3 linked regions of the Homo sapiens genome follow. The protein of the gene in region 3 interacts with the protein of the main gene of each other region in a pairwise test. Each region holds a gene or a part of one and is shown on either strand. Other genes may lie near its edges.

What was found.
Region 1: the proteins of GPHB5 (region 3) and GPHA2 interact in binary tests that used the Homo sapiens proteins (3 or more experiments, as listed by UniProt).
Region 2: the proteins of GPHB5 (region 3) and TMBIM6 interact in binary tests that used the Homo sapiens proteins (3 or more experiments, as listed by UniProt).

What each region holds. Positions count from the first base shown.
Region 1 is NC_000011.10:64,934,309-64,938,056, forward strand, and holds GPHA2 (glycoprotein hormone alpha-2 precursor), read right to left. Parts: upstream 1,586-3,748; 5' UTR 1,526-1,585; intron 1,153-1,525; coding exon 1,050-1,152; intron 868-1,049; coding exon 683-867; intron 567-682; coding exon 465-566; 3' UTR 163-464; downstream 1-162. UniProt on the Homo sapiens protein: Functions as a heterodimeric glycoprotein hormone with GPHB5 able to bind and activate the thyroid-stimulating hormone receptor (TSHR), leading to increased cAMP production. Plays a central role in controlling thyroid cell metabolism.
Region 2 is NC_000012.12:49,739,724-49,743,471, reverse strand, and holds the start of TMBIM6 (bax inhibitor 1), read right to left. Parts: upstream 1,916-3,748; 5' UTR 1,861-1,915; exon of another isoform or gene 1,704-1,860; intron 1,604-1,703; exon of another isoform or gene 1,336-1,603; coding exon of another isoform or gene 1,192-1,335; intron 1,035-1,191; exon of another isoform or gene 865-1,034; intron 56-864; exon of another isoform or gene 1-55. UniProt on the Homo sapiens protein: Endoplasmic reticulum (ER)-resident protein that confers cellular protection as an anti-apoptotic protein by limiting multiple stress-inducing pathways surrounding the endoplasmic reticulum and mitochondria.
Region 3 is NC_000014.9:63,317,168-63,320,915, reverse strand, and holds the start of GPHB5 (glycoprotein hormone beta-5 precursor), read left to right. Parts: upstream 1-1,980; 5' UTR 1,981-2,092; intron 2,093-3,065; 5' UTR 3,066-3,066; coding exon 3,067-3,270; intron 3,271-3,748. UniProt on the Homo sapiens protein: Functions as a heterodimeric glycoprotein hormone with GPHA2 able to bind and activate the thyroid-stimulating hormone receptor (TSHR), leading to increased cAMP production. Plays a central role in controlling thyroid cell metabolism.

The sequences.
Region 1 (3,748 bases), on a different chromosome or scaffold from region 3:
CTCGCTGTGTACTTCCTTGTCCCCTTTTTATTTATTGGGCAGGGGGAGGGGGAGGGCACAGGCAAGAAGAGATTCACAGTGTCCTGGGGTAAGGGGGGGTTCACAGTAATCATGGTCTACTCCTCTTTCCGTGGCTGGGGGTAGACTTAATAAAGAGAGAAATTCAAGAACTGCTTGCTTTATTTAGGGGTAAGGGCAAAGAGGGAAGTAAAATGATGAAAGATTGGTTTAGAAGGGCCAGGCAGAGGCAGGGAAGAAGCAGAAACTCCCCTCTTCTCAGGTGACAGTCACAAAATCTTACAAAGGATCAAAGCTGGAACAACCCTCCCCTTATTTAAAAAAATTCCATAGCAAGTAACCATCAGGGCTGGAGCTCCTTCCAGTTTTTGAATCTTGAACACAGGTTTCCCCCACCAGAACGTCAAGCCCTGTGACCCAGGGGAGGAAGGAGGGGAGAGGATGGGCTAGTAGCGAGAGAGGCGACACATGTCACACTGGCAGGCCCTGGCCGTGAAGATCTCGAGCTCCTCCCTCCGGCTCCCCACACACTGCAGCTGTACTTTGACCTGCGGGAGAGGGGAGTCCGTGCTGCAGTCCCCTTTCTCAGGGCTGTCTAGGATCTCCATCTCTCTGGTCTTCCCGCGACCCCAGCGTCCATCCACCGGGCCCGGGCCCTCCTCACCTTCTTCAGGCCACTGATGGTGCAGCACTGAGAGACGGAGGTGATGTTGTGTCGGTAACCACTGGCCACCAGCACAGAGTACCGAGAAGGGAAGGCGCTGGACTCACAGTGGCCCACACAGGCCTGTGCCACGTGGGAGCCCTGGCAGGTGCCTTGGCGGTCACTTCGCACTGTCACATTGAAGGCTAGAAGGAGATAGGCAAGCAGTAGACGGCGCCTCTGCCAAGGTTTGCCTCGCCCCAGCTCCCGTTGCCTGTGCCTCAGTGTGGGGCCCTTTAGGGTGCTGCCTGCCCCACCGTCCACTCAGCTCTTTGCTCCCACCCAGAACCTCCACTGCTCCTAGCCCTCCGGTCCCAGAGGTACTCACGGTGCAAGTGGCAGCCTGGGATGACTGCCTCCTGGCCCCAGGCTTCAGTGACTGCCAGGACCAGCAGATAGAGGACCAGGGTTTGAGGGGACGCCATAGGCATCTGAAACACAGTGGGGAGATGTCTCTACGTGGGTGTGCAGGTGGGATGGCGAGTTCTTTAAATACTGCATTCCAGGTGAGTGAGCCAGGGCTGGCTGGTCTGACAGGTGAGGTGTGCCTGAATGGTGCTGCCTTTTCCCTGTATCTGCCTTTGTGTGTGTGTGTGTGTGTGTATGGGTGTGAGTGTGAGCAGCTGTCTCTGGAAAGGACCTGTGTGTCAGCCCTCTGTGCAGTGATTCTCCCTTCCCTGGAATTTTCTTCGCCATCTGGAGCGCAAACATCTTCCTCCCTCCATCTGCCCCATCTTGGCCTGCAGGGCCCTCGTCCACATTCCCAGACCCTCCCCAGAGCTCCTCCTGCCTCAGCGAGCTCACCACTTCCGAGGCCCAGGAACAGAGCGGCTTGCAGTTTTCCTGTGCCTCCTGCTGGTCTCCAGCTTGGTGCTGGCTCTCCAGGCTTTTATTTGCCAGCATTTTGGAGCCACGCCCTCTTGGAGATCGGCTTTCAAACCAGCCTCCCCTGCCTGAAGCCTCAGAGCGATCCCACCTGGGGGATCTTGCTCTTTGAGGTGCGGTCCTCGGAGAGCAGCTCCTGCTGCTTTCTGCTTCTTTCTGTCCAAAAAGCTACCCACAGCCCAGGCCTCGATAAGTCAGATGTGGAGAGAAGCCTAGGAGCTGGTGGAGTGTGCAGCGTGTGTGCAGCTGACGACACAGGGGTCAAGACTCTTGGCTGAGTTGTGGACACCTGGGTTCTCTTTGCTCTGTGACCTTGGACAGAACATTTCCCTGTTCAGGGCCTGATCACCCCTAACTTTATTATTATTTATTACTATTATTTTGAGAGGGTCTGGCTCTGTCACCTAGGCTGGAGTGTGGTGGTGTTATCTCGGCTCACTGCAACCTCCACCTCCCAGCCTCCCAGACTCAAGCCATCCTCCCCCTTAGCCTCCTGAGTAGCTGGGACCACAGGCACACCACTATGACCAGCTAACTTTTGTATTTTTTTGTAGAGACAGGATTTTGCCATGTTGCCCATGGTGGTCTTGAACTGCTAAGCTCAAGTGATCCGCCTGCTTAGGCCTCCCAAAGTGCTAGAATTACAGGCATGAGACACTGTGCCTGGCCACACCCCTAATTTTAAAACCACTAAACTCAGTCCTGCTTGCCTTTTTCTAACTGCAAAGGAAAGGGATTGGGGAAGGAGATTCTTAGGGACAAGGGAAATTATACCAGTGGAGGTCTCCTGAGATGTGCTTGGTGGCAGGGCCGGGGGTTTGGGGGTTGCTGTCTGTTTCAGAGTTGCATGGCCACGGTATCAGTGGATGATTCGCATCCTGTGCTACAGAGTAACGTTCTGAGCTGGAGTGCTCCCCTAGCCCTGGAATAACAGGGACCTGACTCCTGAAAGGGCCTGAAGTTATCAACCCCAGCAAAGCTGATCTATTTGTCCAACTCTGGTTTTATAGATGAGGCAACTAAGGCTCAAAGAAAGAAAGTTACTAAAAGTCACCCAGCTAGTTAATGTTAGGGCTGATTTCAAATTCAAATCTGCTGTCCATCCATGGTGCTAAACTACACTTGAGCAAGAATGTGGCAAGCTGGAGAAAGACCCCCAGGCAGCAGTGGCCAGAGGGGTTGGGGCAAGGTGGAGAGCCAAAGGAAGCCTGTGGTGATTCTGGGCAGCCCCGCTTTGGGGTCATTGCCTCACTGATCTGCTCAGAAAGAGCAGGGCCAGTCACAGACTGCTAGAGCTAGAAGGCACTTTATAACTCACCAAATCCTACCCCCTCATTTTCTGGATGAGAAAATAAGAGCTCAGCGGAAAACAACTTCCCAAAGCTTCACTGTAAGCTAGTCAGAGTCAGGGCGGGCACTCACAGCTCCAGATTTGGAGCTGTGCTTCTTAGCAGCTTTGTAAAACAGGCCATGTTTGGGACAGTCGAGTAAAGGCTGTAAACGCAATTTGAGAGGAAGTGATGTTACTAATGTCACTAATCCTTAAATTCCCACACCCTACGGTTTCCCCATCAGCCCCCATCCCCTCAAGACCTGGGTCCTTGTTTGCCAGGTCCTCCGCAGCAGTCCACCTCTTCTCTTCTCCCCACCAAGGGTGCAGGCAGCATAGCAACAGGACGCAGCGGGAACTCAGCAGTTCAGCCCCTGCTCTCCCACTCTTGAGGGGCACCCTCTGGCATGTGACAGATGATGGCTTCTGTTTAAAGCATTTGGGTGACAAGGCTCATTACCTTATGAGGTAGCCCATTCTAATATTGGACATCTCTAACAGGTAAAAAGTGACTCCTTTGTTGTGAGCTAAAATGAGTTTCCCTACATTTCCATAGATCATTTTGGTTCTCCACGGCCACATGAGGCTAAAGTGTCTATTACAGATCAGTCCTTTAGTTGAAGGCAGCTCAGGTGGCCAGGCCTTCTCCAGGGGTGCCAACCTGGATTGACTTCCAGTTAATCTGATAAACGAATCTGCATTACTGTCAAACAGTTAAAGGGATAGAGAGGTGGGAAACATTTTGTCTATGGAGAGGCAACCATTTGGGGCCAAACTGGAACTGGGGAAGAGGTCTCTTGGGTGAGCAGGGC
Region 2 (3,748 bases), on a different chromosome or scaffold from region 3:
CTTGAGGTGTGGAGTTCGAGACCAGGCTGGACAACTTGGCAAAAGCCCGTCTCTACTAAAAATACAAAAATTAGCTGGGCATGGTGGTGCGCGCCTGTCATCTCAGCTGCTTAGGAGGCTGAGGCATGAGAATTGAATGCACCAGGGAGGCGGAGGTTGCAGTGAGCCGAGATTGCACCACTGCACTCCAGCTTGGGTAAGGGAGTGAGACTGTCTCAAAAAAAAAACATAATAATAATAATAAATAAATAAATCGCTTGAGTTCTGGAGTTGGTAAGCCTGGGCAACATGGTGATACCCCATCTCCACAAAAAATACAAAAATTAGCTGGAGCTGGTGACGTCCACCTGTGGTCCTAGCTACTCAGGAGGCTGGGGTGGATCACCTAAGCCAGGAGAGGTCAAGGTTCAAGTGAGCCATGACTGCGCCACTGCACTCTAGCCTGGGCGACAGTGAGACTCTGCCTCAAAAAAAAAAAAAAAAAAAAAGAGGAGGAAGGTACTAAACCATGTTTCCACAACCAGATAAATAACGGAAGAAGCAAACTATGGATCAAAAGTACAGATTGTATTTCTCAAGGGTTCAACTATTCTGTCCCTACTGGAGGAAAGTGGCGGCAGAGAATCTAAATGTCAACATATTCTTTAGGCCAGAACAAAAATATTAGACACAAAGAATAAGAAAACACCAAAGAGTGTAAATACAATAATTACAGAAAAAAGTGTGTATACGCAGGTCATAAGAAATGTGTTTATGCAATTCCGGTATCTTTCCAGAATTCAATTCTTAAACCACACATACAAAAGATAAACTGTAAATAAATATCAATAAGTAACTAGAAAAGTCCATTTGCCATTTATTTACCTTTGACCTTAAAATCCTTGTCTGTTTCAAGCACAGTCAGCCCTTCTACTGGGTTACACATTCACAAGTTGCTAGAACACAGTCTCAAGTTCATAGTGATTTTTGTTGTGGGGGTGGTCAATGAAAGGCTGATGACCCCAAGCAGCCCGGGCTGGCACCGGGTAGTAATTCTACACTCAGTAAATATACAAAGATACCAAAGCCTACTTGTTACCACAGGTCCAGCAAGTAGGCCCAAGATAAAAACTGCCCAACGACGCCCTTGCTGAGCAGACTTAGAAAGACGCCCACAAAACCTCAAGACCAAGCAAAGCAAAGCCACCTCACCTGCCCAAAGGTAACCAATCCGAAAAGAGCGGGGCCGCCCCGTGGGCCTGGAAGGCAGCCCCAGCCCCAGACTCCTCTCACTTCCCGCCTCTGCCGTTGGCTAAGTAACTGAGGAGCCTCGCGTGTCACAGAGGAGTGTGACATCACCCGCCCGCCAGGCCCTACCTCGAGTCTTGGCTCCGGGCCGCTCACCCAGGGTCAGCCCGACCAAAGGACCCGCCCGCAGCCGAACAGCAATCGGATGGGTGGAGTTTCGCGTTCCTTCACCTCGGAAGGACGTGCTCTGAATTCGAACGATCGAAGCTAGGCCAAGGGGCCCTGCGTCTACACTTAGTAGAGGAGAAGGAGCGGGAGAAAGGAAAAGGCGGGCTGAGAAGGGGCCTTCGCCAGCGCTCTGGGGCAGAATAGAGGCCTCGACACCCCCCAAAACCCCCGCAGACTCGCCTCCGCCCCACCCCCGCTTCAGCACTGTTGCGCACGCGCAGCACTAGTTCCCTAGCTTCCCTCCACACCCTGTTTTCCCGAGTCTGGTCTCCGAGCAGGGCCTCGTTCCTTCAGGGTGCCATCTGTCCGCAGAAGGAAGCTACTGCCACTCTTGCTCAGACAGTAACTGCTAACTCCCTTTCCATTTCTCACTCCCAGTTCGCCCAGTACTAGGTTCAGACGTACCTTCCTAACCCGCCTCTCCAAGGCCTACCAGCGCTTCTAACACCGGATGTGCTCTGACTCGCCCACTTCCGCTCCCGATCTTTTACCCGGCGTTCGCCTCTCGAGGGAAACCCCGCCCTGTGGTCCGCTTAAGACCAGTCCTCATTGGCCGTTGGCCGCACTCCTGCCTTTCCATTGGCTGTACGTGCATAAACAGCGGCTGCTTAGTTCAGAGGCCTGAGCTTGTCGATCAAGACTACTGGCCACCAACCGCCTCGAAGCAAAAGGTCTCCGCTTTCTTACCGTAGTAAGCCAGGGTCACGGTGCGCTGCTGCCTCTAGTGGAGAAAGTGAAAATGGGCCGGCCCCGCCCGGGACAGCCCGACGGCTTGTGAAGGGGTAGCGCTGCAGTCTTGGGATTCTGGCTTTAGTCTTGTCATGCAGTGTTAAAGGGGGAAAGCGATTCAGAGAACACATTAAAAAAAAAAAAAAAGCGCCCTCGCAAGGGGCGATTTACTGTGAAACTAGTGGAGCGTAAGCTTCAGAGCACCTTTGAAAACACTTCGATTTCTCTAGAGTATGCGAGAAGGAAATAGCAGGATTCCAGGAGGAAAACCAGAATTTAGGAAACCACTTTCTGGAAAGATAGAACAGTTCTTTTCAGTAAAGAATACAAATATCCAGGGTATGATTCTCAGTAGGCAAACCCAGGTATGCAATTAATAGAAGTTAATTTTCGGCTGGGCGTGGTGGCTTACGTCTGTAATCCCAGCACTTTGGGAGGCTGAGGTGGGCAGATCACTTGAGGCCAGGAGTTTGAGACCAGCCTGGCTAACATGGTAAAACCCCATCTCTATTAAAAATTTAAAAAATTAGCTGGGCGTGGTGGCGTGTGCCTGTAATCCCAACTACTCGGGAGGCTGAGGCAGGAGAATTGCTTGACCCTGGAGGTGAAGGTTGCAGTGAGCCGAGATGGTGCCACTGCACTCCAGCCTGGGAGACAGAGCGAGACCCCGTCTCAAAAAAACCAAAAAAGTTAATTTTCTATAATACAACCTAATTTTTGCTGTAGTGTAGCAGGACAAGCCGCAGACAAAACCCCTCAGACACCGAGTTAAAGCAGGAAGCGGTTTATTCCGCCAGGAGCATCGGCCAAGACTCCTGTCTCAAGAGCTGAGCTCCCTGAGTGAGCAATTCCTGTCCCTTTTAAGGCCTCACAACTCTAAAGGGATCCGCTTGAGAGGGTAGTGATCGATTGAGCAAGCATGCACCGGTAATTAGATCAGAACAGGACAGGGATTTTCACAGTGCTTTTCTATACAATGTCTGTAATCTATAGATAACATAACCGATTAGGTCAGGGGTCGATCTTTAACTACGAGGCCCAGGGTGTGGTGCCTGGCTGTCTGCTTGTGGATTTCATTTCTGCCTTTTAGTTTTTACTACTTCTTTCTTTGGAGGCAGAAATTGGGCATAAGACAATATGAGGGGTGGTCTCCTCCCTTATTCCCCCACTTTGAGACTCTCACTCATTTTATTAGTGGGAGTTCTCACCTTCATCTTCACTACCTATGTCTTCCTGCATGACAGATCGATAGTGATTTATGTAGTACACTTGTGCTGAAGCATTCTGGTGAACTAGAGTAGTGATGAAACCTTTTACCATTTGAATGAGTACAGATAGTAAATAAGGGATCAGTAAGCAGGCTATTACTACTATAATTTTTATTATAAGAGTTTTAAATCCTCCTAGCACTGGGAACCATTTTTAAACATAGCTTCAGGGTCAAATCCGTGTCACACTTGTACAGGCACATGTGCCAGTTTCGTCATGTCTTTAACTATATCTTCGACTACTTGCCTCTGATCATCTATGTGCAGGCAGCAATTGGTAAGGTTAAATTTTCCAC
Region 3 (3,748 bases):
TTTCTTCCAATGTAAAAATGAGAAAATAATAATTGACATAAAGAATTGTTGTAAGGTCTAGAGATAACATATGTAAGAGCACAGCAGATTCCATGGTACCATAGTAGATGCTTAGTGACTATAAATTGTCGGTTTTTTTTTTTTTTTTTTTTTTTTTTTTTTTTTTTTTTTGAGACGGAGTCTCGCTCTGTCGCCCAGGCTGGAGTGCAGTGGCGGATCTCGGCTCACTGCAAGCTCCGCCTCCCGGGTTCACGCCATTCTCCTGCCTCAGCCTCCCAAGTAGCTAGGACTACAGGCGCCCGCCACTACGCCCGGCTATTTTTTGTAGTTTTAGTAGAGACGGGGTTTCACTGTTTTAGCCGGGATGGTCTCGATCTCCTGACCTCGTGATCCGCCCGCCTCGGCCTCCCAAAGTGCTGGGATTACAGGCGTGAGCCACCGCGCCCGGCCAAATTGTCATTTTTATAAAGTTAATGCTGACAGGGTGGAATGCATGATGCCACATCTCTGCATTATAAAGAACTTGGGGATTGTGAAAGAAAGATGCTCTTGGCCTTTGTAATCTGTCTTTATTGTGTGACTCTGCAGACACAAGTGTGTATGTTTCAGGTCTTAAAGGGTTGGGCAGCCGTCTTCAGAAACAGCCCAGGATGGCAGCTCACTGCCGACTGGCCAGCTCTTGGCCAGCAAGTTAGGAAGATCAGGCCAGCTGAGCAGTCCGTCCCCAGAGTACTCCAGTTCTGGTTATGCTACTCACAGGCTGAAGCGCTGAAGAAAGTCCTTTTTCCAAGCCTAGTTCAATATTCTATAAAACATGTATAATAATTCTGCTCTAGAGAGAGGGGTGGTAAATTGATGGACTCACTGGGCATTGTTATCTGTTTTGAAAATGAAATCTACAATGAGCAGTACATTTATTTAAAGAACACTTTTCTTTGCAGAAAGTGGAAATGGTTTAACTTCTTTACTTTGTTTCACTAGTTAGTTAGTGTGCATCTTCAATGTCTCTGCCTACATCATTATTTACTATGATATCAAAACTCCTAAGGGCAAAGATGATGTCTGCTTCATTTACTTTTTAGAGCACCCAGAAAAATGCCATGAACAAGTATATTTTTAATCCACTCATATGCTGTTATTGTAGATTGAAATATAAACTATATCCCATACTCATAAAAATATTTTGTTCTTATTTGAATCATTTAAGACCAAAAATCTGTAAAACTTCTCTATCAGAGCAGCACTGAATGTCCTTACAGACAGAACAAATGCATACCTTTTGGTTTATTTTAATTTTAAAACATTGATATTGACTGACTCTTTATTACAAAAGTCTGCCCAATGTAGAACATGTGAAAAATGCTGAAAACCATATAAAGGAAATGAAAAGTTTTCTTTAATTCCCATGCTGGAAGATAATCACTTGGAACATCGTGGTATTTTTTCCTAAATGATTCATTTTAAGGCGTTATTAATATCATCTAATTCTTAGCTAATTTTAAGACTTTCGACATGTTTCTTCTCACTGTGATTTCCATCTTTTCAGGTAGTGATCCTGTGTTCTTTCCAGCAAGAATTATCGTTTTGTTGTTTTTCAGTGCATTGAAACATGTTGTCGGTTAAAGGAAAGGGTTTGCCATGAGCTGCTAGTCACTTACCCCTGTTTCAAAGGAAACTTGTGGTTACCATGAAGGAAAATTTAATCCATCTGCCACAATGCATTTGTTCTCCTGAGAACCAGGTGGAACTACCTCTGACTATTTCCTTAGGATTATGCCACCCACCAAGGTAACTTTCTATTTCAGTAGGTGATGTTGAGAAACAAAACAACACCCTTTAAGTTAATCAGTTTTGGAAAATAGAGACTGGCTTTCTATTCCATGGCTTTGATGTGTTTAGTAGTTCCTGTAAGGATCTGCCTCTCTTTTGTTTTGATTGACAAGACTTTTCCTATATATTTGAGCAATCAAGCAGCCCAGTAACAGAAGGTAGAGACATTTACCCAGGGCAAACTTCTACCATTCATTGTGACTTCCTGAAATCTTAGTGCAAGTTTCAGCTCTAAAAGAAGAGTGGGCTCCTGCAAGATTAGGTAAGTGCTTCTCCGTATTTGTAACCTCATTCCAGAGGAGGGGAAGCCCAGAGAACTTGCTACAGTAAGGTCAGAAGTAGGAACTGTGAGAATAATGAATTCAGTAGGGGGTAAAGGTCCATGAATGCCATATCCTTTATACTTCAAAATCCACGTGAGTTCTGTCTAGTGGGCCAAGCATGAAGGGGGTTGATTCTGGCTCCGGAAAGAGCACGGGGAATGACCAAGACCCAGAGAGGGTGGACTTGACGGTGGATTGAGGTTATGTTTTAAATAACTCCTATGCTTTCCATCATTTGGATTTAAATTGAATCATAAGTAGATGCTGTTGCAGTGGAAGCCTAGAGCAGAAGCAATTTACAGTGAGTAGGACACATTTATGAATGGCCACCAACTCAGGTGATAGGTTTCATGATATCTTCTGCATATCCATGTTTAGTGGTGAGTTGGTTTAGTAACGATGCATATAGGGAATACTATTATTAATATTTATCAACCCCTCCAAATCATTCCCCATCATGACACTGAAAATATAGTTTTGAGCAAAGTATGTAACATGGCACCCAAATACCCTGGACCTGAATAAAAATAATTTATATGTATTCATGTATTCTGTTGGATTATGGATTAGTTTTGGTGTTACTCATATTTTATGTTTATTTTGGAAAGACCACTGGGACAAACTTCTTTAACACACAAGTCAACTGCAGCAGTTAAGTTACAATAAGGAAAAGCCTGAGAATGCACTTGGAGGATGGGCATCTAGAGAGGGCCATGGAATCCACACTGGCACCAGTTACAGGAATCTCTGGATGCCTGTGTTGGAGTTTGTGGGCATTTACAATTTCTGGGCTCATTTTCCCTGAAATGCTAGGAGCAAGGTCCCTTTGATAGTGACAAATGCATGGTTGGCTGTGCCATTGAAGGCAGCCAGATCTGTTAAACTCTGTCCTTTCCCTCTCCGGAAGAGCAGCATGAAGCTGGCATTCCTCTTCCTTGGCCCCATGGCCCTCCTCCTTCTGGCTGGCTATGGCTGTGTCCTCGGTGCCTCCAGTGGGAACCTGCGCACCTTTGTGGGCTGTGCCGTGAGGGAGTTTACTTTCCTGGCCAAGAAGCCAGGCTGCAGGGGCCTTCGGATCACCACGGATGCCTGCTGGGGTCGCTGTGAGACCTGGGAGGTGAGTTGCTAAGTTGTGCAGATGACAGTGTCTTCTAGGCCAGCAGCTTGGGTCTGATTCTTAAGAGTTCACTTTTTAAATGATATGAGGTAGAGCTGGGACATCTGCCCTTTCCTGTGGACTTAAAAAACCAAAACAAAACTATGATTGGCATCTTCCAAAAGTGATTTGAAAAACATGATGTTGCCCCTCTAACAAAGCATTGATAAGGTTAAGAATTTGGTTTACATTGTGTCTATGTATCTGGGAATCATCTCTGGGAGGTCAAGATGTACTGTTCTACCCGTTTTACAGATGACATGGAGGGATTCAAGGGAGAGTGGCTGCAAAGTCACGTAGAGCGTCAGTGTAAAGCTGGGAATCAATCTGTGGTTCAAGCTTGTGACCCAAACTCCTCCCTATGTTTCCTCATTTTGGATAAATTAGCCAGTTTCCAAGAAAGAGGCCCTGAGCTGAAGGGTGAGCGTTGGTCCCAGTG